4 separate regions of the Homo sapiens genome follow, and all the other regions are linked to region 1. Evidence: fine-mapped expression QTL. A gene starts in region 1. Each other region holds a variant in brackets. All regions are shown on one strand. Distances are between the middles of the regions.

Region 1 (8,132 bases):
GCCCTCCACATATGGGCTCTCTCCCCTTCCTGCCCTCTGCTGGGCAGGCCTTTCTCTGCTTCCTCAGTGGGCCAGCTCCACCTGGGCTTTCAGGATGCAAAGCTCTGTGGCCTTACTGTGGCCACGGGGCCTGGGAACACACTGCCTTTGTTATCTTCCAGGAGCTCTGGGGCGGCACCTGCATCCCTTTGCCAGTAGTTTGTCACCCCATAAGGGCAGAGGTTTTTTTTTGTTTTTTTTTTGAGACAGAGTCTCACTCTATGGCCCAGGGTAGTGTACAGTGGCACGATCTCAACTCACTGCAACCTTTGCCTGCCAGATCCCAGAGATTCTCGTGCCTCAGCCTCCTGAGCAGCTGGGACTACAGGCACGTGCCACAATGCCCAGCTAATTTTTTGTATTTTTTAGTAGAGATGGGGTTTCACTATGTTGGCAAAGCTGGTCTCAAACTCCTGGCCTCTAGTGATCCTCTGTCTCAGCCTCCCAAAGGGCTGAGATTACAGGTGTGAGGCAGCACACCTGAACTCAAGGCAGAGATTTTTACTCTGTTATACCCCTTCCCTCTGCACCACAGCTGGCTGGCAGTAAATAACTGCTGAGTGGATGAGTTGGCAGGCTGTCCTCTGGGCTTCCACATACCCCTCATTTCTCTCTTGCCACAGTGAGCCTCCCAAGGGCATCTGGGTCATTCCTTGGATCATCAGGCTATGGCTGGGTGCAAGCACATGCTGACTGCCCTCACAAGCCAAACCCTGTGCTGGTGACCCTCAAAGACTCACATCCAGGCCCCATCCAGGCCCCAGCAGGCACTTACTCGCCAGGATGTGGGGGCTGAGGGCTGGCCACCTGATTCTGCTTGGCTTTCTGTTCCATTTTGGCTTCAATTTCCCGTTTCTTCTGAGCGATGAGCTCTTCCTGGTGAAGGATGTTCATGTTCATTTTTCCAGATTTAGGGGGAGCAACCCCAAACCACCGGTTAGCCTTTCCTGGGGAGGGAAAAGGAGTACGTCGGAAATCACCCTTACTCCACAAACACCCCAAGAAGCTGTGACAGGCCAGAGAGCAACTGATGTTCAGATTAATTTATATGTCTATTAGTTCATTTATTCAGCAAACACTTACAGAGTGCCTGCTGCATACCATACCCTGTACTTACTACGTGCTATGCAAGAGAACACAGGTCTCTGCCCACGTGGGACTCGCTTCAGGCTGGGAAGACAATAGACCCATAATAAAAAAGTAACTTTCGGGCTGGTGCAGAGGCTCATGCCTGCAATCCCAGCACTTTGGGAGGCAGGGGCAGGCGGATCACTTGAGGTCAGGAGATCGAGACCAGCCTGGCCAACGTGGTGAAACCCTGTCTCTACTAAAAATACAAAAATTAGCTGGGTATGGTGGCATGTGCCTGTAATCCCAGCTACTAGGGAGGCCGAGGCAGGAAAATTGCTTGAACCAGGGAGGTGAAGGTTGCAGTGAGCCGAGATGGTGCCACTGCACTCCAGCCTGGCAACAGAGCAAGACTCTGTCTCAAAAAAAAAAAAAAAAGTAAGTGCACAATGTGGTAAGAGCTCTGCTGAAAACCAAAAAAGGGTGAAAAAGTAACAGGAGAGTACATATGCAGGTAGGACAGGCAGAAAATAAACACTAGAAGAGGAGACATTTAAACCAGAAAAAACAAATAAGAAGCCAGCGTCATGAAAAGCCAAATGGGAGATGATCTGGGCAGAAGAAGGAGCAGATGTGAAAGCTCAAGGCAGGAAGAAGCCTGGTACATCCAAGGAGCAGCAAGTGCCCAGTGTCAGAGGGGCCTGCTCCAGGGACAGGCAGAGGTGAGGCATGTCAGAGCATCTGTGCTTTATTATAAGGGCTTTGGGGAGTGATGGAGAAGCACTAAGATGAAGAATGCAAGATCCATTGGGTCTTTTTTTGAGACAGGGTCTGGCTCTGTTTCTCAGGCTGGAGTGCAGTGGTGTGATCTCAGCTCACTGCAGCCTCCGCCTCCCCGGCTCAAGCAATCCTCCCACCTCAGCCTCCCAAATAGCTTGGATTACAGGCATGCACCACCTCACTTGGCTAATTTTTAAATTTTTTCATAGAGATGAGGTCTTGCTATAGTGCCCAGGCTGGTCTCAAACATTCTTTCCACCTTGGCCTCCCAAAGTGCTGGGATTTACAGGCATGAGGCACCGTGCCCCAGTGGCTTTTTTTTTTTTTTTTTTTTGAGGCGAACTGTTACTCTGTCAGCCAAGATGGAATGCAGTGGCACCACCTCGGCTCATTGCAACCTCCACCTCCCAGGTTCAAGCGATTCTCCTGCCTCAGCCTCCTGAGTAGCTGGGATTACAGGCGTGAGCCACCACACCTGGCTAATTTTTATATTTTTAGTACAGTTAGGATTTCGCCATGTTGTCCAGGCTGGTCTCGAACTCCCGTCCTCAAGGGAACCTCCAATTTACGCCTCTCAAAGCGCTGGAATTACAGGCGTGAGCCACCGAACCCAGCCTTCTTTTTTTTTTTTTTTTTTTTTGAGATGAAGTATTGCTCTTTTCCCCCAGGCTGGAGTGCAATGGCGCGATCTTGGCTCACTGCAATCTCCACCTCCAGAGTTCCAGCGATTCTCCTGCCTCAGCCTCCCGAGTATCTGGGACTACAGGCATCTGCCGCCATGCCTGGCTAATTTTTTCATATTTTTAGTAGAGATGGGGCTTCACCATGTTGGCCAGGCTGGTCTCGAATTCCTGACCTCAAGTGATCCACCCACCTCAGCCTCCCAAAGTGCTGGGATTACAGGCGTGAGCCACCACACCCAGCCGTTTTTTTTGTTTTGTTTTGTTTTTTTGAGACAGGGTCTCGCTGAGTTGCCCAGGCAGGAGTGCAGTTGCATGATCGTAGCTCACTGCATCCTCAAACTCCTGGGCTCTAGAGATTCTCCCACCTCAGCCACCCGAGTGGCTAGGACTACAGGCACACTCTACCAGGCCTAGCTATTTTCTTTTATTTTTTGTAGAGACAGGTTCTTGCTATGTTCCCCAGGCTAATCTTGAACTCCTGTCCTCAAGGGAGCCTCCCATTTAAGCCTCCCAAAATGCTGAGATTTTAGGCATGGATCACCACACCTAGCCAATATCCACAGGGTCGTTTTATTTTCATCCTGGCTACTAGGTAATCATTCTGGCCAGAGAATCCACAGGCAACAAGACCAGGGAGGCTCACTGGCTCCAAGCAACAGACAATGATGTCTTCAGACTAGGGTGATAGTATGGAGACAGGGAAGACACCTCAGAGGTTCCCCATGGGACTCAGAATAAAATCCAAATTTTAAAAGTCTGAGCCGGGCATGGTGACTCACACCTGTAATCCCAGCACCTGGGAGGCTGAAGCAGGCAGATCACTTGAGGTCAGGAGATCGAGACCAGCCTGGCCAACATGGTGATACCCCGTCTCTACTAAAAATACACAAAAACACTGGCCAGGTGCGGTGGCCGGCGCCTGTAATCCCAGCTACTCAGGAGGCTGAGGCAGAAGAATGGCTTGAACCCGGGAGGTAGAGGTTGCAGTCAGCCGACATCGTGCCACTGCACTCCAGCCTGGGCGACAGAGCGAAACTCCGCTTCAACAAAAAGAAAAAAAGAATTCTAAAAGGCCATTTTCAAGGCCCCGCCAGATGGTTCCCCTCCCTTCTGCTTCATCCTTGACATTCTTCAAAAGGACAAGCCCATCCTACCAGGGCCTCTGCATTTACTGGCCCCCCTCTGTGTGGAAGGCTCCACCCTCCAGGGATTCCCATAGCTGGCATTCATTGTCTTAACTCAAATGTCCTCTGCTTGAAAAGGCCTTTCCCTGGGCCAGGTGTGGTGGCTCACACCTTTACGTAACCCCAGCACTTTAAGAGGCTGAGATGGGAGGATCGCTTGAGCCTAGGAATTCCAGACCTGCATGGGAAACGTGGCAACACAAAAAACACACAAATTCGCTGTGTGGTGGCGCGCATCTGTGGTCTCAGCTACTAGGGAGGCTGAGGTGGGAGGATCACCTGAACCCAGGGAGCCACAGTGAGCCACTGCACTACAGCCTGGGCGACAAAGTGAGACCCTGTCTCAAAAAAAAAAAAAAAAAAAAAAAGAAAGAAAGAAAGAAAAGGTCTTTCCTGACTACCCAATATCAGAAGCCTCCACTCTGATCATATCATACGTAACCTCACATCATACGTAAGTTTTTGTAAATATTTTCTCATTAATGCACTGACACCCCAGTAGAAAGCAACCTCCAGGAAGGCAGGGCCCTGTTTCGGTCACCGCTGCATGCGTAGCGCCCAGCACACTGCTTGGCACACAGTGAGCACGCCCTAAGTATCTGCTGATGGGTAAATGCATTCTATTCTGGGGAAGCAGAAAGGCCAAGGCTTGCAGCAAAGTGAGGGTCAAAAGACGCGGGAAAGTGTGTCAAGGGAGCCTCAAAGCACTTCGGAAAAGCAGCTTTTCCAGAAAGCGGGACACAGGCCAGAGGCCAGCTGCGACGAAAAGAGGGGTGCAGGGACAGCCCAAGGTTGTCGCCGTATTGGGGAACGGAGGTTGGAGCAGCCCTGAAGGCGGTTGTTTCGGAAACGGGACGCAGGGCCGAGCCGGGTGGCGGCCTCTACGGAGATCCGTGCGTCCTCAGCAAACCAAGCGGGGGCGGCCAGCAACCTGGGTCTGGGGTCTCGAGAAACCAAGAGGTGCAGAAGCCGACGCTGTGGGCTGCCCCGGGGCTGAAGCGAGGGATCCACGGGTCGCAGCAGGACGGACCCGAGGAGTCAGGGGAGACACCTAGCCCCAGGGACCCAGGCGGCCGCCTGAGAGGAGGCGGGGGCTGTTACCTGCAACATCCCGGTTGTCCATCTTGAGACTCATCCAATCCCACAATGCTCCGGCGCCCCTTAAGGGGCCCTGTTATAGTGTGCATCGCCTGATGGGAGATGTAGTCCGCCTCGGTCAGACTCGCCCTATTACTGCGTGAACGACTGGGTTTTTTTTTTTTTAACCTCCAGAAACGGAAGCCTCAGCCTATCAGCGATGCCTAAGTCCCAGTCACGATAACCAAACGGCGTCGCCCTTTTACACCTTCCCGGAGCGGCAGTCATCCCAAATACAAACTACATGTTCCAGGATGCTTTGGGCGGCAGATCTCGCGGAAGCCGCGAGGAGAGCCCGGCCCCGTCTCGCGCGCCTGCTTCCGCCTCCCTGTGGCGGCGGCTTGTTGTTGTGGAGGCCAAAATGGCGGCTCAGGCGGCGGCAGCGGCCCAGGCGGCGGCGGCCCAGGCTGCGCAGGCCGAGGCGGCCGACTCGTGGTACCTGGCGCTTCTGGGCTTCGCTGAGCACTTCCGCACTTCCAGCCCGCCCAAAATCCGCCTGTGCGTGCACTGCCTGCAGGCCGTGTTCCCCTTCAAGCCGCCGCAGCGCATCGAGGCCCGTACACACCTGCAGCTGGGCTCCGTTCTCTATCACCACACCAAGAACAGCGAGCAGGCGCGCAGCCACCTGGAGAAGGCGGTGAGCGCGGGCCGGGCCGCGAGGGAGGAGTCGCGGGCTCCTTGCAAGATCTGGGCTGACGGGTCGCGACCGCGGCGGGTGGGGGGCCGCTCCTCGGCGACCTGGGGGCGCGACCTCCGTCAAAGCCGCAGGACCCCCACCCGCCTCTGCCGGACCCCAAAGCCACCAGCCTCTCAAGGGACACGAAAGCCTCGCCCCCCACGCCTTATTTCCCGTTTCTGGTGACAGGGCTCCAGGAGCCCCGTCACCGTACTCTGAAAGTTGCCTGTTATTGGGAGCAACAGGATCCGCAAATCGTCTGGTTTTCAGGAGGATCCCACCTGTTGGTGGCGATGGGGACATCACAGGGTCCTGAAGCTATTAGCTCCTCCTGGTTCAGCTTCCGGAGCATCAGCCCCAAACGCTTCCACCTAAAGTGACTTGGGGTAGGGGTTGGCGAAGGCGAGACCCCTGGCATTCTCCCGGGAATCTGAAGTCTGGTCTCTCAGGAACCTGGAAGGGCATGATTCTCCTTGGACACAGAAGTTTGGTAATCGTGGTTTTTGGAGGGTCTTGTGCCCCCATCAATAATGCCTGGTGTCGTACGAGGGAAGCTGAGACCCGGAGTCTGGAGTTGGTCATTTGAGGCCTATGAGGAGGAGAAACAGGGGTTCTGGATTCCAGGCCCCGCTGTTCAGTTTCAGTATTAGGGGAACTAAAAGCAGCTCCTGCTTTTTCTCCATCCACTGGTGACTTCTACCATCCATCAGTCCATCCTCTTCCGTCAGAGTGAGTCCCTCCCCTGACCCAACTTGATTTGTGTCATCTTGGTGCCTCAAAGAATGCGGGAGAGTGGCTGTCATTCTGCCCTTTAGTAAACTTTCTTTTTTTTTTTTTTTTTGAGACGGAGTCTTGCTCTGTCACCCAGGCTGGAGTGCAGTGGTGCCATCTTGGCTCACTGCAAGTTCCGCCTCCCGGGTTCAGGCCATTCTCCTGCCTCAGCCTCCTGAGTAGCTGAGACTACAGGCGCCCGCCACCACGCCTGCCTAATTTTTTGTATTTTTTAGTAGAGATGGGGTTTCACCGTGTTAGCCAGGGTGGTCTCCATCTCCTGACCTCATGATCTGCCCACCTCGGCCTCCCACAGTGCTGGGATTACAGGCTTGAGCCACCGCGCCCGGCCCCTTTAATAAACTTTCTAGGGCCAGGCTCAGTGGCTTATGTCTGTAATCCCAGTATTTTGGGAGGCGGAGGCAGACAGATTACTAGACCCCAGGAGTTTGAGACCAGCCTGGGCAACACAGTGAGATCCCGTCTCTACAAAAAATACAAAAACTAGCTGGGCGTACTGACGCGGGCCTGTAGTCCCATCTACTCCAGAGGCTGAGGTGGGAGGATCAGCTAAGCCCCGGGAGGTCGTGGCTGCAGTGAGCAGTGATCACGCCACTTCACTCCAGCCTTGGTGACAGTGAAACCCTGTCTCAGAAAAAAAAGATAATAAGGAAAAAATAATAAAATTTCAGGCTGTGGAGTCGTTTTTTTCTCACAGCAGCGCTGTGATCCTGTCAGACCCCTGCCTCCCTTTTACCTTTTACCCAGCTCTGTCCTGCTTGAATAGAAAATTATTGAAAAGAATCAACTCAGATTTTAAAAACTCATTAATCTGAGGTAAATCCAAGCCCACCCTCAGCTAGTAACAACTTGCCTTGAGGAATAGATCAAATCTTTGTTTCACAGACTGAAAAGTTGGAAGGAGACTTTATTTTATTTTATTTTATTTATTTGTTTATTTTGAGACGGAGTTTCGCTCTTGTTGCCGGGGCTGTAGCGCAATGGCAGGATCTCAGCCCACTGCAACCTCCGTCTCCCGGGTTCAAGTGATTCTCCTGCCTCAGCCTCCCGAGTAGCTGGGACTACAGGTGTGCGCCACCACACCCAGCTAATTTTTGTATTTTTAGTAGAGACGGGTTCACAGTATTGGCCAGGCTGGTCTTGAACTCCTGACCTTGTGATCCACTCCCCTCGGCCTCCCAAAGTGCTGAGATTACAGGCATGAGCCACTGCGCCCAGCCCCAGATAATTTTTTTTCTTTTTTTTTTGAGACAGATTCTCGCTTTGTCACCAGGCTGGAGTGCAGTGGCGCGGTCTTGGCTCACTGCAACTTCCGTCTCGTGGGTTCAAGCAATTCTCTTGCCTCAGCCTCCCGAGTAGCTGGGATTACAGGCTTGCACCACATCATCTGGCTAATTTTTGTATTTTTAGTAGAGACAGAGTTTCACCATTTGGTCAGGCTGGTTTCGAACTCCTGACCTCAAGTGATCCGCCCATCTTGTCCTCCCAAAGTGCTAGGATTATAGGTGTGAGTCACCACATCTGGCCAGTTTTATTTATTTATTTATTTATTTATTTTGAGACAGGGTCTCGCTCCATCACCCCGGCTGGGGTGCACTGGCGTGATCTCAGCTCACTGCAGCCTTGACCTCCTGGGCTCAAGCAGTCCTCCCATCTCAGCCTCCTGAGTAGTTGGGACCACAGGTACGCACCACCACACCCAGCTAATTTTTGTGTTTTTTGTAAAGACAAGGGCTTGAACTCCTGAGCTCAAGCCATCCACCTGCCTCAGCC
Region 2 (8,132 bases), 43 kb before region 1:
GCATCCTCCCTCCAGCCCACCTCCAGTCCTCCCCGCCCCCGCCCGCCCCCACTGTCCCCAAGGCCGCCCTGGCCCCTCTCCGCACGCACTGCGAGAGCGCCGAGACGTGGTTGAGCGCGTAGGACACCGGGAGGGCGCTCAGCGACAGCGCCGCGATCTTGCCGGCCAGCGGCGGGATGTCCATAGCGGCGGCTGCTGGACCCCGGCTCAGCCCCGACGCGTTCTCCAGGGCGCTCGGCTCCTCGTTGGCGGCGAGTCCGGGCCGAGGCTGCCAGGGACCCGCCCCGCACAAAGGTCGACCCCGCTGCGCCCTGGGCAGGCCGCCGTGACCGCCCTGCGTGTTCCCAGGGAGCCTCCAAGGCCCCTCCCCGGCCCTCCCCCTGGCAGCTGCCCCGCCCCTTCGCCCCTCACCATCGACACCCTCGTCTCCAATGGCCGTCCCGCTACTCAGCCTCAGTTTCCCTCACTGTCAAAGGCTGGGACACAACACCTCGGGATGCTTCTGCTCTTAGGCCAAGGGGTGCGCCCTGGAGGTCCTGGCGTGCCCCCTCTTTCCCCTGCCTCCACAACTTCGTTCTAAGGAAATTTTCTCCTGGACTCTGCGCTTCTAAACCTCTGCATTCCCCAGAGTTTCCCATCCCCACCCAAAGATCAAGTCGGCATTCCCTGTGCGCACGGATGGAGCAACCTCCAGCTCTTGGGTGCAAAATGCCTTTCAGTGGGCTTAGATTTGAGTTTTCATAAGGTGGCCACAAATGTAAACGTGTTTCCAGGCAGGTGTGAAGTTTTTTTGTTTGTTTTTTGAGAGGTCTCACTCTGTGGCCCAGACTGGAGTGCAGTGGCCCTCCTCCTTGAACTCCCAGCCTCAAGAGATCCTCCTACCTCAGCCTCCCAAGTAGTTGGGACTACAGGTATGCACCACCACGCGCAGCTAGTTATTTTTTGTAAAGACAGAGGTCTCACTTTTTTGCCCAGACTGGTTTCAAACTCCTGGGCTCAACAGATCCTCCCACATCAGCCTCCCGAGGAGCTGGGATTACAGGCGTGAGCCACTGCGAGGGGTCTTTAAGTGTGAGGCTTTGACTCCGGGGCTGTCCCTTTGCAGGCTAGTCCCGGGTTTAGGGTTCTTCATTTCGGGGAGAGGGTAGAAGGGGTCCTAGCGGGTGGGGGCTGAAGTTAGAATATCGGGATGGAGCCAGTTTGGTGAAGAGTTTGGGAACGGTGTTCCTGGCAGGGAGGAAAGTGGCTCAGGCTTGGAACTGAGCAGTGGAAAGGAGGTCGGTTCTGCTGGGGTGTGATGAGAAGCGAGACAGCTGTGAGAGGCTGTGGGAGGTTTTGAACAGCTGGGAGGGGGCCACAGTATTGGGGGGGAGAATAAGGAGACCATCTGTCTTTGTCACCCCCTCCAACCAGACTCTGGCCCATGTGGAGTACTTGTGGATGCTGCAGACAGCAAGGTGAACCATGCCCACCTGACGCCTGCCCTGCGGGACCCCAGTCTGCAGCTGGCACAAATTCTAACCACTGCCCCTACCTCAGGCCCCATTCTGCACGCAGCCCCTTAGCTTGATGCCAACTGGGTCACAGGTCTTCCTGAACTGGGCCACAAGAGGGTCTTCTGGCCGCAGGTCTGACTCAGCCTCCTTCCCCAGGTGTCCACTGCCCATGGGTGAAGTTCAGGTTCCCCTGGACTTTCCCCAACTCTAGCAGGGTCAACACCCCCCAGGCCTGCTTTCTGTCTGTAAAATGAGCCTTCTTGTAAGCGGGCCCCAGCATCCCCTCCTCCAGGCAGCCCTGCCTGCCACCCCCACCCCACCTTCTCCACACAAGGCCAGGGTGCCTGTGCCCAGCTCAGCCTAGGGGCTTGGCCTTGTCCCGTGTACAGGATGCACCTGCACACGCACACAGCACTTGGAGGCCTCGTCCCCTGGCAAGGGGTAAAGTCCATGCCCTGAGCCTGGTGAGCCTCCAGGTTGCTGAGAACTGAGAAGTGACTTGGATGGCTGAATGCCTGGGACCCAGTGCCAGGATTCCCTGAACCACTGGCTGCAGAGAACTACCCCGCTGTGCTCAGGGTCCTGGCCCACTGCCTTCTGGGCAGCCCTCATTCATGGGCACCCAGGCCAAGCCCACCAATGTTACTCTTTGCTCTGCCTCAGCCACAGCGTCAGGAAAGAACAAAGGGTGGTATATCACCCCAGCCTTGGCTCTGCCACTGCATCTGGCACCTCCCTGGTCTCAGACCCCACTGAGACACTCTGCAGACCGCCCCACCACGGCTCCCTGGTTCCTCTCAGTAGCAGCCTCAGACCTCATCCCCAGCAGCCTGGCTGACTGGAGTAGATCTTGTCCACCTGGTCCCCACACTTGGCACCTAGTGTTTGCTGAATGGCTGTGTGAACACAAGCTGGCCCAGGAGCCCGACTCCATGCCAAGCATGTGAATAGGGAGCCCCTGGTGCCTGCAGGGGCTGGGCAGCACCCACTGGGTGTGTGTGGAGGGGGTGGGGGCAGATGGAAATGCAAATTCCCAGGGCCCTGCCCAACCAGCTGACTCGGCAGCTGCAGCTTAACAAGATCCCCAGGGTGACTTAGGCACAAATGTGGGGCTCTGGCCCTGGGGCAGATGTGGGGGTCTTGGCACACACTGTGGCCTGGGCTACCCTCCTGCCTCAAAACCTCCGGCTCTGAGGCCCTTCCTTCTAGGAGCTGCCTGACATGTTGGCATGGCACATCCATGCATCCATGCGGCTGTCCCCTAACGACACAAGCCCCAGGGACTCGTGTGCCTACCACACTGGTGGGACCTGAAGGGCCACAGCCAACACCTGTGTGCTGGGCCGTGCCAGCACCACCTGCCAGGAGAGCACATGGGTGTGCCCAGAAGCCACCTGCCCCCACAGGTCTGAGGGAAGGTGGGGCCCTGCCTGGAGACCCCTCCCCAACCTCCCTCTGCAGCACAGTGCTAGGCTCGGAGGTTCCTGACATTCCTTTAGCCCAGGTGTGGCCAAGTCTCCAGCTTTATTATTATTATTATTATTTGAGACAGAGTCTTGCTCTCTTGCCCAGGCTGGAGTGCAAAGGCGCAATCTTGGCTCACTGCAACCGCTTCCCAGGTTCAAGCCATTCTCCTGCCTCTGCCTCCCGAGTAGCTGAGACGACAGGTGTGCACCACCATGCCCAGCTAATTTTATATTTTTAGTAGAGACAGGATTTCACCATGTTGGCCAGGCTGGTCTTAAACTCCTGACCTCCAGTGATCCGCCCGCCTTGGCCTCTCAAAGTGCTGGGATGACAGGGGTGAGACACTGCACCTGGCCTTCCAGCTTTACTATGCTGAAAACAACTTTCTTCCTCCCCTCCAGTGCAACCCAGGCTGAGCGGGGATGGAGACTCCACAGGCCAATAAGGAGAGCCCCGAGACAGCATCTTGCATCCCGCTGCTAACAGGAGGGGCTTCCTGCAACAGGACCAGGCATCTGTGGTGGATGAGCACTGGGAC[T/G]TTATTACACGGCACGGCACTCGTGACAACGGAAGGGGTGGGCAGAAATGCAGGCCGGAACATTCCACAGTCCAGGGACGGTTGGTCATTCAGAAAGTATGTATTTCCAGAACACTCAGTAGTAAGGCCGTCTGGGATTGTTCTGTGGAAGGCAAAACAGATAACAGGAGGAGGGGATTAGCACTAAAGACAGCAGTTCCTCCTGTCTGGAACCTTCCGGAGGCAGCTGAGCCCGCACCCTTGAGGTGGCAGGGCAGGCTTGGGGGACGGGTGGGGGCTTGAATGCAGGTGGGTGGTAGGGGGCTCGCTGGTGAGACCCAGCCTGGCTGGACTGAGGAAGGAAGGGAGCCTTCTGTTCCTACCACCACCCTCTCCTGTCGACTGAGCAAAGGCAGCCCAGGAGGACATGCGTACCAGGGGGTTGGGCCGGAAGCGGTAGGCCAGCATCATCCTCTTGCGGAACGCCTCATACTCGTCGTCCTCCTTGGAGAGCTCCGCCGGCCGGTCAATGCCGAAGCCAGCGCCGTCCACTGTGGTGGTGCCCCTACAGGGAGAAGAGGATGTGAGCAGGGACCTGGGGCCAGAACTCTGGCCGGGGGGCCGGGCACAGCTGGGCTCTCAACAGCACCTCCCGCGGGTGCAGGGCTGGGCTGGGACATATCTGCACAGAGAGAAGCTTGAACCTGAATGGTCAAGGAGGGGAGACCCCCGGGGCGGGCGGGGGGGGGGGGCCTAGGCCCCAGGGTCCCACACAGGAAGGAGGAGCCCACAGTGCAAGTTGTCGCAGCTCTTGGGATGGCAGGATGGTTACTCAAGGACAGCCTTGAAGGGGGCACTCGGGGCCAGGGTCACACCTGGGAGAGCTCCTGCCCATCTCTGGGAGTGGTTTCGCACTCATGGGGAATTCAAATAAGGCCCTTCACAAGGCAGACAAGGCCTGACCCATCTGTACCCTCACCCACCCCATCTGGCCTGGAGATACTCATGAGGGGACGGAAGGAGGCCCTGGGACTGGGGAGGACCCAGCCCGTATGGCCTCCTGCACTGCAGGCCTGTGCCTGACAAGGGGTGTGCAGTGGGGTGCTGTGATCATTTTGCCACAAGGGAAAAGCGATGACATAAAGGGGTGGGAATGGGGAGGCGGCAGGGGACCCACAGACCCCAAGTTCATGGCCATGCCCTCCCACAAGGCCACACTCACTTGTTCACTGGGTTCTTGATGCCCTGGCCCTCTGAGCCCAGCCCCTCGCCCTCCTTCCAGCCCATCTTCATCAGCATCTGGTAGCCGATGTTCTCCACAGTCAGCTTGAACTCCTTGTACTCTGAGTAGTCAGGCTCACGGCCCTCCTGCAAGGTGAGGAGGTAGCTGTCACCCACCAGGGCTGGGGCTGTGGTGGCCCCCAAATCCAACCTTCTGCCTTTGGTTTCAATCAGTGCTGGGACCAGTGGCCCATCTGCCTCCCTCTCACCAGATCAGACTCCTTGAGAACAAACAGACCAAGCTCCTCCTGCTTCTCAGGGTCCCCGGGGCCTTAGTGCCAAACTGTGCACCCCTGGTGGCCAAGTCAAAAGGGCAAGAGGATGAGTTACACAGGCCTTATCCACCTGAGATAAAGCAATGGTTCACTGGCAAAGAGAAGCCCCGTGTTCATGTCCTGAGAGCAATTTGTTGTACAAGGTACTAATAAGAGATGGACAACGAGGTTACCACCTCACTAATGAGGTTATCAGGCCCTGAACAGTTTTATAAAAAAACCTCAAAAAGATAATGGGGGACGTGCCATGTCAGCCCTCTCTCCTCAGGAGCCCAACAGCAGCAGAGGCAGAATGTTAAACTCTGGTTCTGGAGAGGCCAGTCCGTGGGGACTTCTGCCGGAGAAACACTTTGCCTGTAAACTGCACTTAATTGGCTCCACTGGAAGCAAAATTTCCCCCGCAGCCCCAGGAAATGTTTCTGAGGCAGCAGCTGAGCTGCTGTTTGCTAATTCCCTACACAGACGGCGCCTGTCATTAACAGATGCCTCCTGCAGCGAAAAGGCCTGGCTCCTGCTGTGATCGAGAGGGTAGCCAGGCTACTTTGGGCACCTGCAGGGTGAGGCAGCTACAGGAGGGGCTGGCATGTGGCAGAGGCTGGAGCTAGGGCCCCTCCTGGCTCACCTTCAGGGCCTTGAAGGTCTCCATAAACTTTTCCAGCTCGTCTGGAGGCAGGAAGTCTCCGATGAAGTGCTTGCCCCGGCCCATCTTTGTCAGCTGCTCGGCCCATTCTGCTCAGAGAAGCAGAAAGGTGAGAAGAGGGAGAAGCAGGAAGGAGGGGAGCAGGCCTGGTGGCTCCCAGGGCACAGGTATGAGGCTCAGTGGGAGCCTGGGGCCCCCAGGGAAGGAGGCGGCTAGGCCATGACCCCAGCCCGAGCCTCTGCCTGGTGAGGCAGCCCAGCATTTAGTGAACCCTGTGCAGCTCTCCACCCTCACGATGTCAGGACTGCTCCTTTTCACCACGGAGAAAACTAGGCCCCAGAGAGACTGAGCCTCTCACTCCAGGCCTCACAGCCACAGGAAGCAGGCTGGGGGCTAAACCAGGATGGCAGCTCAAGACCACGTGTGGCGCATCCAGGTAACCTTCCAGGGCAGGTGAGGGGGGCCATGCCCAGCCCAGCCCGGCCCACCCCGCTGCCCCACATACCCCTGGTCTTATCCATCTCCATGCGCCGCAGCTGGTGCTCCCAGGTGCCCAGCTCGCTGTCCACCTCCTCATCACTGTCATAGCCGTGCTGGTGCTGTTGGACTGCCTTCTCCCACAGCAGCTGCATGTCCTGCATGGCCCGCTTGTGCTGCATGATCATGTCGTACATCTGCTGCATCTGCAGGGCACACTCGCCAGTGAGCCAGGGCACGGTGCTGTGGCCTGCCGGAGCCCCGCTCCTGCTCCCCGCCTCCAGTGCTGGGCATCCCCCGCCGGAACGTGGCTCATCTGGACCCCTGGGCAGGACTGGAGCAAGGACTCTAGCAAGTACTGAGTACTGCCCTGGGTTCTCTAAATCCCAGTGTGGAGCACGGAGGACCTCTTGGCCACTGAATGAGGGTGACTCAGGGTCCTGACCCCTGGGAGGGTCAAGGGTGATGTGACGGGGCTGCGGGCCTGGAGGAGGGGTCACAGCGAGCTGACCCCAGGGACTGACAGGCAAGCGCCTGCAGCTCCTCAGGGGAGCCAACACCGACACTGCCCAACTACAACTGGGAGGCCTCAAGTCCCTCAGGGTGCCCTGTGCTGACCAGGATGGTCCTGCACTAGACACGACAGAGGACTGCGGACAAAGAACATCAACGTAGACTCTCCCATGGGAACCAGCCCTGGAGCGCGGCGAGAAGCAGCCACAAAGCTCAGGCCAGGATCACAGACCACCGGGGCCGCCCCAAGGGCCAGTGGTCTCCCAGGCAGGCTGAGAGGCCACTCAGGTGCAGTGGGGGGTGGCATGCCACCTACTGGGGCAGGGGGACCTGCCTGCCTGGAAGCCTCCCCGCTGGCCATGGGTTCCACCTGAACACAGGAGCTTGGCGAAGCACATGAACCCCTGTGACCGCTGCACCCGGGGGTAGAGGACAACACTCTATGGGCGCCGACCATGTCCCCGTCCCCTTGTCCCCGCAGTCTTACCTCCTGCTGCTCCTTCAGCTGCTTCTTCTGGGCGTCTGAAAGCTCTGTGACGCCCACTAGACCCACAGGCTTCCCCTTCTCATAGCCGAGCCCCTTGAGGTCCTGAACTGGAAACCAAAGACACAGGGTAGTCAGAGCCTGACAGGTGCACCCCGATCTCGCTCCTGCGCTGGGGTGTGCTGTGAGTCTCACACCTTCATGACACTCCAGGCACACGGGGACCTCATATCATTACTGTCAGTGCCACGTGGTACGTGACGGCCTCGGGGTCCCGCTGTGTGCTGCCACGTGCACCCCCGCATCTTACGTCCTTGTGACCTCTCCAGCCAGGCTCTACGCACCACCACATTGCAGATGTGGACACCAAGAATCAGAGGTTCCGGGACTCACTCAGGGTCACACAGCTAACGAGTGACAGGGCAGGAATTTGCAGAGCCAGAGACAAGAGAGCTGAGACGGCATGTGGGCAGCATGCATGGGCGCACGCACAAACGGGCTCTCAGAAGGCAGCTCCGTTGCTAACAGACACCAGGTGTAAGCGCGCACAGATTCAGAGTCTGGCGTAAGACTCAGCTGTGCGACTCCCTTAGCTCCTTCAGGGGAGGCAGCCAACCATCCTCAGAGCAGCTGACATTTAATTTGGCATCAGCTGTGGAACTTGGCAGGCTCCAGTAACACTGACACATAGAAAGATGCTGCAACAGCCCCATCCGGGTGGCAGAAACCACCACCCCTCGGGCGGTGCGGTGCTTCCCGGGGGAGAAGGTGAGCAAAGGGGTGCAGCGGGCCCTCTGGGAAGGGAAAAGATTTGGGTCCTTCCAGCTCATCAACACTCGGGCTTTGCCGCTAAGAATGGCCCACATTTGCACTCTTAGTCCTTCCTTGGTTTACAGGGCACTGAGGGATGTGGGGGAGCCCTGTTGGGGAGACGCAGGAGCCGAAGTCTGAGCATCTGGTTGATTGCCTTAGAGCATGCCCA
Region 3 (8,000 bases), 170 kb after region 1:
CCAGCTTTTTAATTTTTTTAGAGACAGGGTCTCACTGTGTTGCCCAGGCTGGTCTTGAACTCCAAAGCTCAGGTCATCCTCTCACCTCAGCCTCCCAAAGCGCTGGGATTGCAGGCATGAACCATCGCACCTGGCCATATTTTGTTTCTGACCATCCCCTGACTTGTCTTGTGATTTGGGTAAGTTATCATTTCTTGATAGAGTCCGAGGGCCACATCTGTGTCCTCACACTGCCTCCTCCTTCACACCTCAGGGACTTAGCTTGTGGATGCTACTGGCTGTCCAGGATCCTTCAGCCATAAATAAAGGTTCACTATTCCAAAAATGACATAGTGGGGCTCAGTGGCTCACGCCTGTTACAGCACTTTGGGAGGCTGAGGTGGAAGGATCACCTGATCCCAAGAAGTTCAAGACCAAGCCTGGGCAATACATAGTAGTTCCCATATCTACCAATAAATAACAAATTAATTCGCTGGGTGTGGTGGCTCGTGCCTGTAGTCCCAGCTACTCAGGAGGCTGAGGTGGGAGGATCGCTTGAGCCCAGGAAGTCGAGGCTGTAGTGAGCTGTGATTGTACCATTGCACTCCAGCCTGGTTTACAGAATGAGACCCTGTCTCAAAAAAAATAAAATATGACCGAGCGCGGTGGCTCATGCCTGTATCTCAGCACTTTGGGAGGCCGAGGTGGGCAGATCACTTGAGCCCAGGAGTTTGAGACCAGCCTGACCAACGTGGTGAAACCCTGTCTCTACTAAAAATACAAAAATTAGCCAGGTGTGGTAGTGGGCGCCTGTAGTCCCAGTTACTGGAGAGACTGAGGCCGGAGAATCACTTGAACCTGGGAGGCAGAGTTTGCAGTGAGCCAAGATCGCGCCACTGCACTCCATCCTGGGCAATAGAGGGAGACGCTTGTCTCCAAATAAAGATATTTGATGACCTGAATTAGCAGCTGCCAGTCACATGGGGCCTATCCTCTCTAACCCCACACCTCCTCTTTAGGGTTCCCCCAGGGTCCTGGCACAGTGAGGGGTCCACACAGGAGCTCAGGTGCTGTAGGAGCCCAGGTTGTCTGCAGGTCCTGGTGTGTGACCTTAGGAAGTCATGTGGCCCTCCCTTAAGATTGTTCCCTGTACTGGGAACTGGGGGTAATGATGGAGCTGTGGAGAGGATTATGTGGAAGGGTGAATTTTGGTGGTTGGCCTAGGAATGGCCATCATAAAGGCTCAGCAGGTGTTTACTGGGTTTTTGAAACCTGAAAAGTTAGCCTTTCATTTCTTCGATTGTAGTCATTTCTAATGCATGTGTCTTCCTGTATTTCTAAGCAGAACGTGCTGGATTTGATGTGGCCTCCCCCATGGTGTCAGCTGCTGACAAGATTGGGCTGCAGTGGCCTCTGTGGGCGGGTAGAGGCTGCTGGCCCACATGAGCATGGTACTAAGGTCTCCTAGGCTTGTCTCTACTACCCTCAGCCAAGCTATTCTGCACGCCCCCGAGACTGGCCCCTGTCACAGTGAGGTCCTCTGGGCCTCCCTGGCTGGGCCCTTTGACTTCAGGGGCTGTTGCGTTCCTAGAAGGCGTTCTGGCAGCGCCGGCTGGCCGCCCCCTGGCTGTGCTGATGCTGGGGGCGGGCACTGCATGGGGCTCCTCTGCTCTAGCTGGGGACCTGGGACTGCTCCCTTCTGTACTGGGGAAAGGAGAGCAGGCAGGGATGGGCTCAGAGGTCTGGGCCAGCCACACAGACTCTCTCTCTTTTTCCTGAGCTCTTTAGCCAGCACTGTGGCAGTGCTCACCATAATGGATTCCCAGAGCGGTCGTTGGACCTGAAGTCTCCAGGAAGAATGATGGCTGAGTTTCAAAAATCCCATCCCAGCTGCTCACCTCCACGGCCTCTGAGGCAGAGAAGCAGAATGTGTTCTGTCTTCCTGGGCCCCACAAAGCAGGCTCTGGGCTTTTCTCTCACATCCCAGCCAAGAGGAGCTCAAGTTACATGGCGGGAGAAGTGTGATGGATGCTAAGAAGGGAGTTGAGGGAACCGCAGAGGGGCTGCGGCTGGCGAGAAGCAGGTGGGCCTCAGGGCATGGGGAGCGGGGTGACTCGGGAGGACACCAGACAACCCCCAGGAGTTCTTCAGTGTTTTTTTTTTGGAGACTGAGTCTCGGTCTGTCATCCAGCATGGAGTGCAGTGGCACAATCTCGGCTCACTGCAAACTCCACCTCCCGGGTTCACGCCATTCTGCTGCCTCAGCCTCCCGAGTAGCTGGGACTACAGGTGCCCGCCACCATACCCGGCTAATTTTTTTTTTTTTTTTTTTTGTATTTTTAGTAGAGATGGGGTTTCACCATGTTAGCCAGGATGGTCTCGATCTCTTGACCTCGTGATCCGCCCGCCTCGGCCTCCCAAAGTGCTGGAATTACAGGTGTTAGCCACCACACCCGGCCTAGTTCCTCAGTTTTGGGGCACAGCCTGTGTCTAGACAACAGAGCTCTCTTTCTATCAGCTGAGTGTCTCTGAGTGAACACCACCCCTTGGGAAAGGAGGGAGGACTGCGTGGGGTCCCAGTGAGCAGCCCCCACGTCCAGGTTGCAGTGAATGCTGCCAGAATTGTATGTCAGCACACCCACTACACAGGGGCCTGACACACAAGATATTGCCCGGACTGGCCTGGGCAACACAGCGAGACCCCACCTGTACAAAAACTTTAAAAATGCAGTGAGCCATGATCGTGCCACTGTGCTCCAGCGTAGGCAACAGAGTGAGAGACCCTGTCTCAATATCAAAAATTGAAAATTGAAAAAAATTAGCCAGGTGTGGTAGTGTTTCCCTGTGGTCCCAGCAGCTTGGGAGGCTAAGATGGGAGGATCACTGGAGCCCAGGAGTTCCAGGCTACATTGAACTATGATCACACCATTGCACTCCAGCCTGACAAGAGTGAGACCCTGTCTCTAAAAAAAGAAGTTGCTCAGTGGTAGGACTAACTTGGGGAACTGATAACTGTGTCCTTTTTCTCTGTCACAGGATTTTTCTTTTTCTTTTTTTTTTTTTCTTTTTTTTTTTTTTTTTTGAGACGGAGTCTGGCTGTCGCCCAGGCTGGAGTGCGCAGTGGCACGATCTCGGCTCCCTGCAGGCTCTGCCCCCCGGGGTTCATGCCATTCTCCTGCCTCAGCCTCCCGAGTAGCTGGGACTACAGGCGCCCGCCACCTCGCCTGGCTAATTTTTTGTATTTTTAGTAGAGACGAGGTTTCACTGTGTTAGCCAGGATGGTCTCTATCTCGTGACCTCGTGATCCGCCCACCTCGGCCTCCCAAAGTGCTGGGATTACAGGCGTGAGCCACCGCGCCCAGCCTGTCATAGGATTTTTCTAGGAGTGTTTCTTGAAGGCAGGTAGAGAGACTGGATGAAGCATGAGGAATTGCTTTCTGGCTTGACTCACTTCACTCCAGGTGCTGCCTGAAGCTGGGGTGCCTCCCAGCCTGCAGACTGCCTCCTCCTTTTCCATGGGACCCTCTTCAGCCCCTTTCATTGTTGGGCAGCTCTGGTCTCCCACATGACCTTCCTAGAGCTGTTCTCATCTTGAGTCTGCACCTGTCTGGGGGGCCTCTGTGCAGGCTGCTGTTGGTCCCTCTGTCAGGGGGTGCTTTAAGGCTCAGTGGGTAGTTACTTGGGTAAACCCTTTCTTTCCCCCTTCTCTTTCCCTGCTTTGTCCCAGGGTAGCATCTGAGGGAGGAAGTGGAGTTACAGTGATATGGGTTAGCTCCCCAGGGGCCAGCCTGGGCCATTGGCTCCATTAGCTTAGTGGTTTAAAGCAGCGAGGTATTGACGTTTTTCAGTCTGTCAGTTCTGCTGGTTGGCTGGTCCCGCCCAGCTGGGCACTGTTGCTGGGGCCCTCTGGTCTTTGCAGTTGCATGTCAGCTGGGCTGGGTGTCCCCAGTGGTTTCATCACTCACATGTGATGGCCAAAACAGCTGGGACTGGCTGGACCAGTCTCTGTGCCTGTCTCCATCTCCCCCACTATAGCGGGGGCTAGTGTGGGCCTCTGATCCCGTGGTGGTTTGGGGCAGTCAGACCTCAGCTCTCCTAGAGCAAGCATTCCGAGGGCTCAGGCAGAAGCTGCAAGGCTTCTGTGACCTCACCTGAAAAGGCTGCCACGTCACTTCCTCTGCATTCTGTAGTTTGGGAATTGAGCCATAAAACCAGCCCAGGTCAAGTACTACGGGGGCTATGAGTAGATGCAGCCAGAGCCTCCGGCCTCCTCAGGACTGCAGAGATGGGCCGGGGGCCTTGCAGAGTTTGGTCTGGTGTACAGGGTTTGTCAGCCATGAGTATTAGGGCTCCTTCTTCATATCCACAAAAGCGCTTGGACTCAAAAAATAGGAATTTGGCTTCCAGGGTCTGTTGCTTTACAAAGACGCACGATGACACACAATTCAGAAATCCTTGTGAGTGAGTTTCCCTTTCCTCCAGCAGCACAACATCTATGTGCACGAGGGAAGCAGCTGCCCACCGTGCAAGGGGGTCCATCAGTCCGTGGCGCTGGTTCCTCCTGAACTCACAGCCCCAACCCTGGAACCTCCATCAAGGCAAGAGGAGGAAGTGGGCGCTCCCCAGCCTTGCCAGGCCCCCAGCAGACCCAGTCTGCCCTTGGGGGGTTTGTGAATGTTCAGGTGTCACATTTCAGGACCTGTTTACTGAGATTGTCTGCTCTGTAATGGGCTCCCACTCTTTCCTCA[G/A]AAAGCTGTCAGGTCAGGCAGATGTTTCAGGTTTGCCATTGCTTCCATCTGGGAGCTGCAAGGCGAAGGCACGGGCGGCCTGTTTGCTGCCCTTATCTTCCCAGTGTTGGGGACCCCAGGAAGTACTGTCTTCTAAGGCCCGACAATCCAAAAGAAAATCACTCCTGCATGCTCCTATCCCCTTCAAGGTTGCATCCTGTCAGAGCATCCATCTTGCCTCTGGAGGCCGTGGTGCTGCTGCCATCTGGGTTTTGGGGGCTGCTGGATGTGGGCGGCTGGCTCTGAAGAGGCAGCATGTGATCTGACAGCAGGATGCTCCCGCCCCACCAAATGACAGCCTTGGGGCAGCTCCCGGCAAACAACTCCATTTCCTTCTCCGAGGTGGGAATGGGACCTGGTGCAGGGGACGCAGGCTGTCGGGGCAAACCTCTCTCTCCATTCTAGGGGCATGCAGGGTGGCTATGAGTGCTCTCAGGAAGGTCACTGTTCCCGAGGCCTGAGCTGAGCACTTTCAGATCAGCAGGGCTGCCTGATCCCCCTGCAGCCAGCCGGCTGTCTAAGGTGCCCGAGCCTCCTCAGCACTGAAGTCTCACCTCACCAGGCAGCCCTGAGAGGCTGCGGGACAGGGATTCCTCTGCCCTGCCATGCAGGAGCCATGGAGAGGGAAGTGTCACTTGCAAGAGGCAGAATCAAGTGAGACCCAGGTGTCTTCTAGCTCACTGGGTGAGGGCTCTCTCCACAGCCTGACTTGCCGGCAGTCGTTTGAAGTCCAAGGCTGGGCAAGGGTGGCCAGTGAGCTCCAGGCCTCAGCTTGCTAAAGGAGCTACTCCACAGGAGCATGCGGGCTCAGGGCTCAGCACCCTCACATGACAGGCTCAGCCAGCCTCTCCCCCATCCCCAGCCATCATAGACTTAGGAGGAGATTCCTGGCTCTGAGGACATGGGGGCTTGCCCCCTTCTCTGGGGCTGTGGTATCACCCCAGGGCTGGATACCCCCTTGCCCTTTGTTCATCTGGTCCTGGGAACACCTTGTCCCTTGTTGGGAGCTGAGGCTGTGCCACAGAGTGGGGCCATAGGTCCCTGGGTGCTGTGCCGGTGCCACACCCACCTGAAGGAGGTCGTGATGGCCCCCAGCTCAGGGTGCAGGAACCTGCTTGTCAGACAGGTGCTGACATGTCACCCTGCAAGGCAGGGGGAGGGAGGGCTCATCTTCATAGGGGGGTGGGGTGGGGTGCCGTGCAGGGAGCCAAAGGCACTTAGATGGGCTTGCTGGGCCGAGGGTGGGTGGGCCAGTCACTGGGCTGGGGGTGGCTAAGGAACACAGACCCACCAGCCAGCCCTTCTTGGGAAGCTCTGGGGGGTTTCTGCTCAGACCTGCACTCCCCCGAGTGGAACCCCGAGTTCTGCCATGACCTTCACCCCGAGGCAAGGGGACAGGGCCGGGCAGGCTTCCTGAGGCATGTTGAAGAGGGATGTTCTGCAGGCAGAACATGGCCATGCTGGGCCATGTCTGTGGGCCAGGCCCCAGGAGGGCGGGGGATGTTAACAGCTTGGTTCATGTCAGGTAGGGCCTGGTGAGCCCAAGATGAGTGTTTGCACAAGGGACAAGTGAGCTGGCAGGGCTGGTGTTGGCTCTAGCAGAGCCCTCATCCCACCCTTGCACACAGCCAGCAGCCCACCCTGCTAGGCCTGAAAGAGGTGAGGAGGAAAGGTTCTAGTGGGAAATGGTTCTGTGGCTGGAGAAGGCATTGCTGGGCCCTGCCTGTCTCCCCAAGCCAGCCTGGAGGAGGATTTCTTGTACCGAGGCCTCACGAGCTACAGGTCATGGTCATCCCTAACTTCCCTAGTGTGTGCAAGACTTGGGGGATCTTGCTGAAATACAGACTTTGATCAAGCAGGTCTGGGGCAAGGAGGACACGCTTCATTTATACAAGTTCCGGAGAAGCTGCCCTGCTGCTATGGCGGTGACAGCGGTGGTCAGACATTCACGGGGCCAGCCCCAAGCCCACCTACAGCCTTGCCCCCACCTGCCGCTCCCCTGTTGTGTCTGTCCATCCTGGTAGACTGAACCCTAAGGACAGAAATTCCTTTTATCCAGGGGTTCCTCCCCACTGCCTGCTATAGCACCTGCTTTTTAAATGAGCTCTCAGCAGATGTAAGGAATGAATGAATGAATGAATGAGGGAGAGGGGTATGTCTTTCCTGCATACCAGGCAGGCCTGTTCAGAGAACCACAAAGGTCCCAGCCTCCAAGGACAGCTCCTTCCCGGCACTGGCTGAGGGGACACTAAATATTAACCACGTACTGGCCGCTGGTTGCTGAGCAGCTGAAAGCCATAACCTTTTGCTGTGGAAGTGGGATCGTGTCTCAATTTAAGTTTATAATCCCGGCCTCTCCTCCAGGAAATTCTATGGAAGTTCCTGGCAGGTAACAGAATTTCTGTGCTTGTGAGGTCAGGGCCAGTGCCAGCGGGTCAGGGAGTGGGGGTGGTGCGTGTCAGCGAGCGGGTGAGACCATTTACGCTGATAACAGCCTGGCCTGCTTCCAGGGATTTTTGTAGGTCACATAAAATCTCTTGATCACTACGTTTTACATTAAGGCTTCTCAAGATGGGCAGGACGGGCTTATGGGATTTGTCCTGAACTATCACATCACTTCCAAATAAACTTGGTGCCCGGGACGGCTGCTGTGGAGTGAATGGCAGACGCTGTCCCTGGGCCACGATGCCATCCCTCTCAGCATGTTGGGCTAGATTTCCACTGGTTTTGTTTACTTTAGACAGTTTTTATAATTAAATATTTCCCTGAAATAATGCCTGCAATCATTTTGAGCCACATGCTCTTTTTCCTGAATTAAAGATCTCTTTTAGAAAGTACTGAGACTCTTAAAGCCTCTCTCCTTTAAAAAGTGAGCTTAACAAAGTTTTTCATTTTAGAAACTTAGAGGGGCCAGTGACCCTGCTGTGTGCGGTGTATGTAGAGGTGACTGGAGCCTGTGGTGCAGCAACAGTCCCCTGTGGGCTGGCGCCACACAGGAAGTGCCTGCAGCTCCACAGCCCTGGGGTGAGCCTGGCGCCTCCATTTTCTGACAGTACCTGAACCTTTACCTCCCTTCTCAAAATGAAGGCTGCGTGTCACAAACCGGTTGGAACTGGCCGTTGCCATGGTTTTCACGTTGGAAGGCACAGTTAAAGGGTCATGTGACCAAGGAGGGAAATGCCTTTGTCACATGACTTTTTGGTGGCCTGATTAGCATACAGGAAGTTCACTCCC
Region 4 (8,132 bases), 93 kb after region 1:
TGTTATTTCCACTCAGATGACATCATTTTTTAAAATGTCAAGTCATCTCTATTAATGCAGTATCATTTGGCAAATCCTATAATCTTATATTTTGATAGTGAGGGAAAAATATAATGCTACTTTCGGTAGGAAAAAATCCTGGAAGGATTTGTACCAGAATGTCAATAAAGGTCTCTACATTAGGATTAGCAATAGTTTTTCTTTTTTAGAAAACTTTTTAGTGTCTCTGTATTTTGCGTGTGTGTGTATGTTTTTAATGAGGAAACATGTTTTAAATACTCTAATTTTCAACTCTTCAGTAGCTCCTCTGACTTGTTTTGCATCATTTATTTTCTGAATTTCTGGCATTGCAGGTAGTGATTTCTAGATTGATATATTCAACAAATATCAGAGTGCATACTGTGCCTTCGACACTGCGAGGAATCCCTCCTCAGTAGAGTTTATAGTGAGATTAGTGGGCCAGGAGTCGTAATTAATCTTATAAACATGGGGAAACTTACAGGGATCAAGGAGAGAAGGACACTGTGACCTGGTGAGCCCGAAAGGACCTTTCTCCTACTGGGGTCAGAGAACAAGAAGGGGGACCCTCTTGAAGGGGATTAAGGCAAGGGCTGGTGCAGTGAGGCTCACAGCCGGGACCTCTTTGGGTCTTAGCAGATGACTAAAGGATGCCTCTGAAGAATGTGGCTGGTAAAGTTGTAAAGCCATTCTTGAAATGTTGGCTTTTTTTTTTTTTTTTTTTGGTGTTTGTTCTCTTGGAAGAAAATTAAGAATGACCAGCAGAGTTTTGGATATATGAATTCCCAACAGAGACAAAAATGTAATGGCCCTTACCACTGAATTTGTTTAAGGACCATCATTAGCATGTACTGACACCTCAAAGCCTGGGCAGCTCAGATGCTTTTCTGGAGAACTACCTGCTTGGACTCGGGGTGTTTCTGTGCCATCAAATGGAACAGGCAGGGCTATTTTCTCTAGACCTTTCCCCCCCATAATTGAGTTAATTTATGCTGGTTGTAGAAAACTAGGAAGATTATGAAATAGGTGAGTGGGTGAAGTCTTCTCGAGCAGCTGTCCTGGGGTAATAGAGCATCCCTGGGATTTCCTCCTAACCCTTGTCTGGTTGGGAAGTGTGGCAGAACCAGAAGAACAAGTTGGCAATGTCATAGTTTGAGGCATACAGAACTATGCTGCCTGCTAAGTGTGGTCGTTTGTTAGAATGGATGCTTTTGAGTTATCTGAGCTGCTTCGGGAGGTAGCTTTCCACAGTCTGGCCTCAGACTGTGGGTCTTCCAGGTTAACAGGACTTAAGTGCTAACTGTGCAAAGGTATGTCTTTGAATGGAATTAGGAAGGCAGTGTATTAAAAATAAGAAGGTTGAGATAAAAAAAGACGGATCTTGAAGTGGTTGGTGGTTGCAGCGAGGTGGAAATAGTGAGACCCGTACTGTCAGAAACAAAGGTACCACTGGGGACAGATCCCGCTCGAGCATGGGTTCCCCAGCATCCCCGCAAACAGGATCTGGGACTTTTTTGTCAAGAGAGTGTCAGACCGTTGGCTTCTTGCCCCTCCCCCACCTTGTGCTTTCCAGACTATATTTGTGACCTCTTTTTGTCTGATGGAAATGTAGGTTAGTCTTTTAGAAGACAAAGGAATTTACCCTAATAGAATACCTTTAGGTAGCCTCAGGAAGTGATTGGGAATCCACGAAACCCTCTAGGTGTGGGAGAGAGGGGCCCTCAGTGAGAATGTCACACGTTTGCACCAGTTTGCACAGTTGCCAGGGCCCCTTGCAGCTCCTCTGTACGCTGTACCCCCTTTGTCTCTCCTCAGCCTCCAGAGGCACCTTCACAGGTGAGTTTGTCAGGGAACTTGCCTTTCTGTCTGATTCCTGATTTTAGGGTTCCTTATATGGAAGGGCTGAAGACCTGCAATTTCCGAGGATGCTGGAGGCTAGCTTCTGAGATAGGATTTGCTGGCAGGAGATGAGCAGTACTCTAAAGGAGGGCTCCCAGCAAGTCAAAGTGGGAGTTCTTGGGGCAGGGGGTGGGGGATGGGGGTGGTGGGTGGAGTGGTCAAGGCTTCAGGGCTTTCCTGCTGCTTGGCCTCAAAGATAGTAGCTATGCCTGTGGGGAGGGGTGTGGCCATGTGGTACAGGATTGGGGAGAAATTCCACTTGTTTGAAGGATTTGTTGAAGAATCCCTCAGCTATTCCTCCTGCAGTTCCGTCTCAGGACCTGGCGCTGCGTGGCCTGCCTTGCCGGTTAGATATTCTGGTTTGAACCTTGAAACGTAGCCTAAATAAGGTGGTGCCTTCGAGCACACACTTTAAAAATACTGCTGCATTATGGTGGCACAGCAGCTCCTCCTGTGCCAAGGAGGCCACTTTGAGTCTAGGGGGCACCTGCTTTTTGCCAAGTGTGGCCGTGTGCCTATTGCTGAGCAGCCTGTCTCTAGTGGCATCCAGGACAGCCCTGGCTTTGCCTCAAGACAGCCTGGTGTGAGCTCTGCCCAGCCACTTCCTAGCGAAAGACCTTGTTGAACATCACCCCTGTTTCCCATTTCTGTCAAGGGGGTACTTACTATCTCCCGTGGAAGGCTGTGTTGGGAGTGAGATAACAAGTGCAAATGATCGACCCCAGTGCCTGTGTGTTCCACATGTTGCAGTTCAGTGAGTACTGTTATGACTGTAACAGATGAGCCAGAGTTCACAAGCATTAACAACTGCCCCACCTCTTCTGTGGGGGATGACACCACCCTCATGGCAAACTGTCACTGTCTGCATGCCCCCTTTGGAGCCACACTGGGGCGCATGCCTCAGCTTTGTGCCCCAGCCTATTCCCCTCTCTCCATGTTCCTGTGAAGAAGGCAAAGTTCCCCACAGGAGGTGATACTTGCCATAGTCACCTTGCTCATTATTCGGCGGCTGGGACCCAACCCAGCCTTTCTGATTTCAGACGTTGTCTATTTTTTCCACTGCCTTGGGGCCTTCTTGACGATACTGAATGCCTGGGTTGGTTGTGCCCCAAGCCAGGAGGCAGCCTCTTTCCTGGCCCAGGGCTTGTGGAAGCCAGCATCCGGACTTCCATCTGTGAGATGGGAAGCTGTTTGCCGGGCAGATCTGTCATGGGAGCCTTCCTTAGAGAACTGAGAGGGGTCCCTGTCACTGAGTGGACTCTGGGTGGAGGCTGGAAGTAGGTGGTTTGATGGTACTTGCAGTGGTGTCTGGGAGCGCCAGGGTGAATCTCATCCTCCTGGACTTGCCTTTCAGACTGACAGCTCTCCAGCCAGCTTGGAGTTGGACAGATCTGGCTTTGTCACTGACGATATGCAGTTTACCACTCTTCAGCGTTGGGTGGGTCACCTGATCACCTGGCCTCAGCTTTCTCTTATGTTGGCGGAGACAGCATCTTTGACCTAACAGGATGCTGTGAGGACAAGTGGAAAGTGTCTACAGGCAGTCAGGGGTATTCCAGCCTTTGCCTCTCCATTTACCTCAGAGCCAAAAAGCTTTCTCCCCCCAGATGTCAACTACACAGTGATTCTTGAACACCTCATATCTCAGTTATCACATATAATGTAACACTCAGATTGAGGAGCTTGGTTTTCTTTATAACAGAATCCTACTGCAAGCTAACAATTTGGAGGCCTAAGAGTCAGGTCAAGGCCGGGCGCGGCAGCTCACGTCTGTAATCCTAGCACTTTGGGAGCCTAAGGCAGGCTGATTGTTTGAGCCCAGTAGTTCGAGACCCGCCTGGGCAATGTAGCAATCCCCCATCTCTCTCTCTCTCTCTCTCTTTTTTTTTTGGTGGGCTGTCTCAGGCCGCTTTTTTTTCTCTCTCTTTTTTTTTAATTTTTAATTTTTTTTT[T/A]AATTTTTTTGTTGAGACGGAGTCTTGCTCTGTCAGCCAGGCTGGAGTGCAGTGACGCGATCTCAGCTCACTGCAAGCTCCGCCTCCGGGGTTCATGCCATTCTCCTGCCTCAGCCTCCCAAGTAGCTGGGACTACAGGTGCCCGCCACCACACCCGGCTAATTTTTTGTATATTTAGTAGAGACGGGGTTTCACCATGTTGGCCAGGATGGTCTTGATTTCTTGACCTTGTGATCCACCTGCCTCGGCCTCCCAAAGTGCTGGCATTACAGGCGTGAGCCACCGTGCCCGGCCGATTCCCCATCTCTTAAAAAAAAAAAAATTAGCCAGGTGTGGTGGCATGCATCTGTAGGCCCTGCTACTTGCGAGGCTGAGATGGGAGGATCGGTTGAGCCTGGGAGGTTGAAGCTGCAGTGAGAGGAGATCATGCCATTGCACTCCAGCCTGGGCGACAGAGTGAGACTCTGTCTGCGGGGGGGATAAAAAAGGTCTGATCAGATTATCTGGAAGGGATGTGAAAAACCCTGTGGCCCTAACTCTACAAATAATACCAACTTAACATTTTCTCCAGTCACAGCCATTCTGTGCAATTAACCTTTGAGTCAGTGGCTGTGAATCTATACTCAACACATTCTTACCTTAGAGACGGCTGCTTGCCCTGACCTCGGAGGTGGGCAGGTTTTAGGCCAGTAAAGTAGGCCTCCAATTTACGATGGATTGACTTAAAATTTTTCAACTTTATGTTGGGTTTATCAGAGGTAACCCCATTGTAAGTCGAGGAGCTCCCTTTGATTTGTAACAGTTTCTCCTGAACACAGATCCCTTTCGTACCATGGTAAAGTTGAGAAATTTTAAGTCGAATAATTGTAAAATGGGACCAGTGGCTGTGTTAAATGCATTTGATATTTTCTACTCCCAGTGGGGCTGCATTCTAATAAACCCATCATAAGTTGAGGAGCATCTGTCTTCTTGTTGCTGGGGTTTCAAGTTGGTGGAATTTGGTGGTAGTGACAGCAGATTTTTAGTTCTCTTGTGTGTTTAGCACAGGCTCACTCTGCCAGCAAGTTTTGAAAACTGCTGCTACCACCTTCGTTCACATCCGCAGAGGAACATTTTTCCTTGTTGCTCAAGTGTGGCTGGAGAAAGTAGGAGAGTGGTGAACTGAATTCTTGGTTTGAAGGCATCGATTGAATTGGTTCCGTCACTCTCGAGACCTGTGCTGTTCTCAGGACTTGCGTATCATTGACGGAACACCTGAACTTCATTTTCTGTCTTCTCATGTAGTGTCCCTGGGTTTGCCGAGGGTTCATGCCCACCCCGTTCAGTGGTGGTTCTTTCAGAGGATTCTGTAGTCAGCTCCTTTCCTAGGGTTCTCTTATAGCCACTCTAACCCAGGGAGAGTTTGCTGGTGTGTTTGGTGTTTTTGTTTTTGTTTTTTTGAGATGGAGTCTCACTCTGTCGCTCAGGCTGGAGTGCAGTGGCGCAATCTCGGCTCACTGCTTGAACCTCCGCCTCCTGGGTTCAAGCGATTCTCCTGCCTCAGCCTCCCGAGTAGTTAGGATTACAGACACCCATAACTTTGCCTGGCTAATTTTTGTATTTTTAGTAGAGATGGGGTTTCGTCATGTTGGTCAGGCTGGTCTCGAACTCCTGACCTCAGATGATCCACCCACCTTGGCCTCCCAAAGTACTGGGATTACAGGTGTAAACCACCGTGCCTGGCTGTGTTTGATGTTTTTATTAATACGTTCGTTTGATGAACTGACCTCGGTAGTTTGTATGTGGGCCATCTGTCTCCTGCCTCCCTTCCCCAAACTTTTGGTCAAGTTTTTAGTGTTGAGTCTTTTTGTTGTTGTCTCTTTTCTGACTGTACAAGCAACATTTCCTGATGCCGAAGTCTGGGGAGGGGGTGGGAGCCTCAGATGTTGGTGGTAGGAGTTGCCTGGTCTGCTTTTGAAGTTTTCTTGGGCAAGTATATTAACATATACTGAGTATAGGTTCAAATGTAATTGCAGTCTTATTGTTAGTTTGTATCTGTCAGGTTATAGGATTAGAAATATAACTATTTTTGGGAGTTGGGTAGCAGACAAACTGAGGATTCTACCTGGGACTTTCTTCTGTGTACTGTGCTCTGCTGAACCCAACACTGGGCACAAACAGGAAACTGAGGCTCAAGCGGAGGAGGAGTGGCCTGCCCAAGGTTGACTTGCAGAAGGAATGAGGATATATCCCTGTTTTCTCCTGGAATTAGACTTTCAGATCTCTGTTGTTCTTACTGATGTCTTTGTGGCTTGGTGAATTTTGTTTTAGCTTCCTTCTTACTTTATTTATGTAGGTCCATTGGTCAGTTTCCTTCCTCAGGGCCTTGTCTTTTTTTTTTTTTTTTTTTTTTTTTGAAACAGAGTCTTGCTCCATTGTCCAGTCTGGAGGGCAGTGGTGCAATCTCGGCTCACTGCAACCTCTGCATCACGGTTCAAGCGATTCTTGTGCCTCATCCTCCCAAGTAGCTGGGATTACAGGCGCACGCCACCACGCCCAGCTCTTTTTTTTTTTTTGTAGAGATGGGGTTTTACCATGTTGGCCAAGCTGGTCTTGAACTCCTGGCCTCAAGTGATTTGCCCACCTTGGCCTCCCAAAGTGCTAGGATTACAGGTGTGAGCCACCACACCCTGCCCCCTTTTTTTTTTTTTTTTTTTTTTTGAGTCCTGAGGTCATTTTGGGTGTCTGTAGGGTGAGGATGGGGCAGGACATGGGGAGGGAGAACTTAGGGCTGCCTCTGGTTTCTCAGGGCAGCCTTAAAAAAAAACTATAGTGGCCAAGTGTAGTGGCTCAGGTAACCTTAGCTCTTTGGGAGGCTGAGGTGGGAGGATTGCTTGAGGCTAGGAGTTTGAGATTGGCCTGGACAACATAGTGAGACCTGCCCCCGCCCCCCTCCCCCCAAAAAAACCCCAAAAAACTGTAGTAGTGTTGAGTAGGTGATGTCTTTACTTTTTTTTTTTTTATGTTTTTTAGACGGAGTTTTGCTCTTGTTGCCCAGGCTAGAGTGCAATGGCATGATCTCAGCTCACTGCAACCTCCGCCTCCTGGGTTCAAACAATTCACCTGCCTCAGCTTCCCGAGTAGCTGGGATTACAGGCATGTGTCACCATACCCAGCTAATTTTGTATTTTTAGTAGAGACAGGGTTTCTTCTCCATGTTGGTCAGGCTGGTCTTGAACTCGCGACTTCAGGTGATCTGCCCGCTTTGGCCTCCCAAAGCCCTGGGATTACAGACGTGAGCCACCACGCCCAGCCTTTTTTTTTTTTGGAGATGGAGTCTCACTCTGTTGCCCAGGCTGGAATGCAGTGGCACAATCTTGGCTCACTGTAACCTCCGCTTCCCAGATTCAAGCGATTCTCCTGCCCCAGCCTCCCAAGTAGCTGCGATTACAGGCGTGCGCCACCATGCCGGGCTAATATTTTTTTTTTTTTTTTTTTTGAGACAGTCTCACTTTGTCACCAGGCTGGAGGGCAGTGGCATGTTCTTGGCTCACTGCAACTTCTGCTTCCTCGGTTCAAGCAATTCTCCTGCCTCAGCCTCCCAAGTAGCTGGGACTACAGGCACATGCCACCACGCCTAGCTAATTTTTGTATTTTTGGTAGAGACAGGGTATCACCATGTTGGCCAGGATGGTCTTGATCCCTTGACCTCGTGATCCACCCACCTTGGCCTCCCCCAAAGTTGGAATTGCAGGCATGAGCCACCACGCCCGGCCGACTTTACATTTTAAGAGCATAAAACTACTTTTCCCTGTATGGTTTTTTTTCCCCCCCAAGAGACATGGTTTTGCTCTGTCACCCAGGCTAGAGTGCAGAGGCTCATGATCACAATCACTATAGCCTCGACCTCCTGGACTTAAGCCATCCTCCCACCTTAGTCTCCTAAAGCACTGGGATTACAGGTCCCCATCTATTATAAGATGTAATTGCACTTAATTTGTAGACATCCTTCAAGTGATATGTGGGTGACCATTTAAAGATACAAAAAAGGAGCACATGGAAATGGGAGGAGCCAACTAAATATCAGGTCCTGCACTGGGCTCCAGTGGTTGACTGTGTTAGTCCCGGGCAAGAGCGAGGGCCTTAACACTGCCAAGGATGCTGGATGAGACCTGGTTAAGGAAATTGAACATGTTTTGTTCAGATGAGAGATGATTTGGGGTGGGGGTGGTGGCAGGTTCCGGAAGGCCCCAGGATCTTGGCTCAAGACTGGACTGAAGGCCT

What was found.
Region 2: its variant is fine-mapped to the expression of SUGP1 in whole blood (TOPMed, PIP 0.98).
Region 3: its variant is fine-mapped to the expression of SUGP1 in whole blood (TOPMed, PIP above 0.99).
Region 4: its variant is fine-mapped to the expression of SUGP1 in whole blood (INTERVAL, PIP above 0.99).

Annotation. Positions count from the first base shown.
Region 1 is chr19:19,315,608-19,323,739 of GRCh38, forward strand. SUGP1 (SURP and G-patch domain containing 1) reads right to left here and starts at 4,902. Exons shown (of 14, transcript NM_172231.4): 1 at 4,856-4,902; 2 at 815-986. The coding sequence starts at 4,889. It overlaps MAU2 (MAU2 sister chromatid cohesion factor), which reads left to right and starts at 5,222. Exons shown (of 19, transcript NM_015329.4): 1 at 5,222-5,528. The coding sequence starts at 5,253. RefSeq lists enhancers at 4,770-4,819, 4,840-5,329, 5,038-6,009 and a silencer at 5,381-5,602.
Region 2 is chr19:19,273,032-19,281,163 of GRCh38, forward strand. TM6SF2 (transmembrane 6 superfamily member 2) reads right to left here and starts at 270. Exons shown (of 10, transcript NM_001001524.3): 1 at 90-270. The coding sequence starts at 184. SUGP1 (SURP and G-patch domain containing 1) reads right to left here. Exons shown (of 14, transcript NM_172231.4): 9 at 7,154-7,260; 10 at 6,182-6,359; 11 at 5,659-5,765; 12 at 4,703-4,848; 13 at 3,916-4,045; 14 at 3,002-3,643. The coding sequence ends at 3,617. The variant T/G (reference allele first, on the strand shown) is at 3,502.
Region 3 is chr19:19,481,490-19,489,489 of GRCh38, forward strand. The region is part of intron 2 of GATAD2A (GATA zinc finger domain containing 2A); the gene reads left to right. Among named protein-coding and RNA genes, the nearest start is that of TSSK6, 30 kb to the right of the region's middle. RefSeq lists enhancers at 1,051-1,658, 2,765-3,549, 6,687-7,470, 7,337-8,000, 7,471-8,000 and 1 more. The variant G/A (reference allele first, on the strand shown) is at 4,728.
Region 4 is chr19:19,408,292-19,416,423 of GRCh38, forward strand. The region is part of intron 1 of GATAD2A (GATA zinc finger domain containing 2A); the gene reads left to right. Among named protein-coding and RNA genes, the nearest start is that of GATAD2A, 6.7 kb to the left of the region's middle. RefSeq lists an enhancer at 2,504-2,613 and a silencer at 2,724-2,813. The variant T/A (reference allele first, on the strand shown) is at 3,870.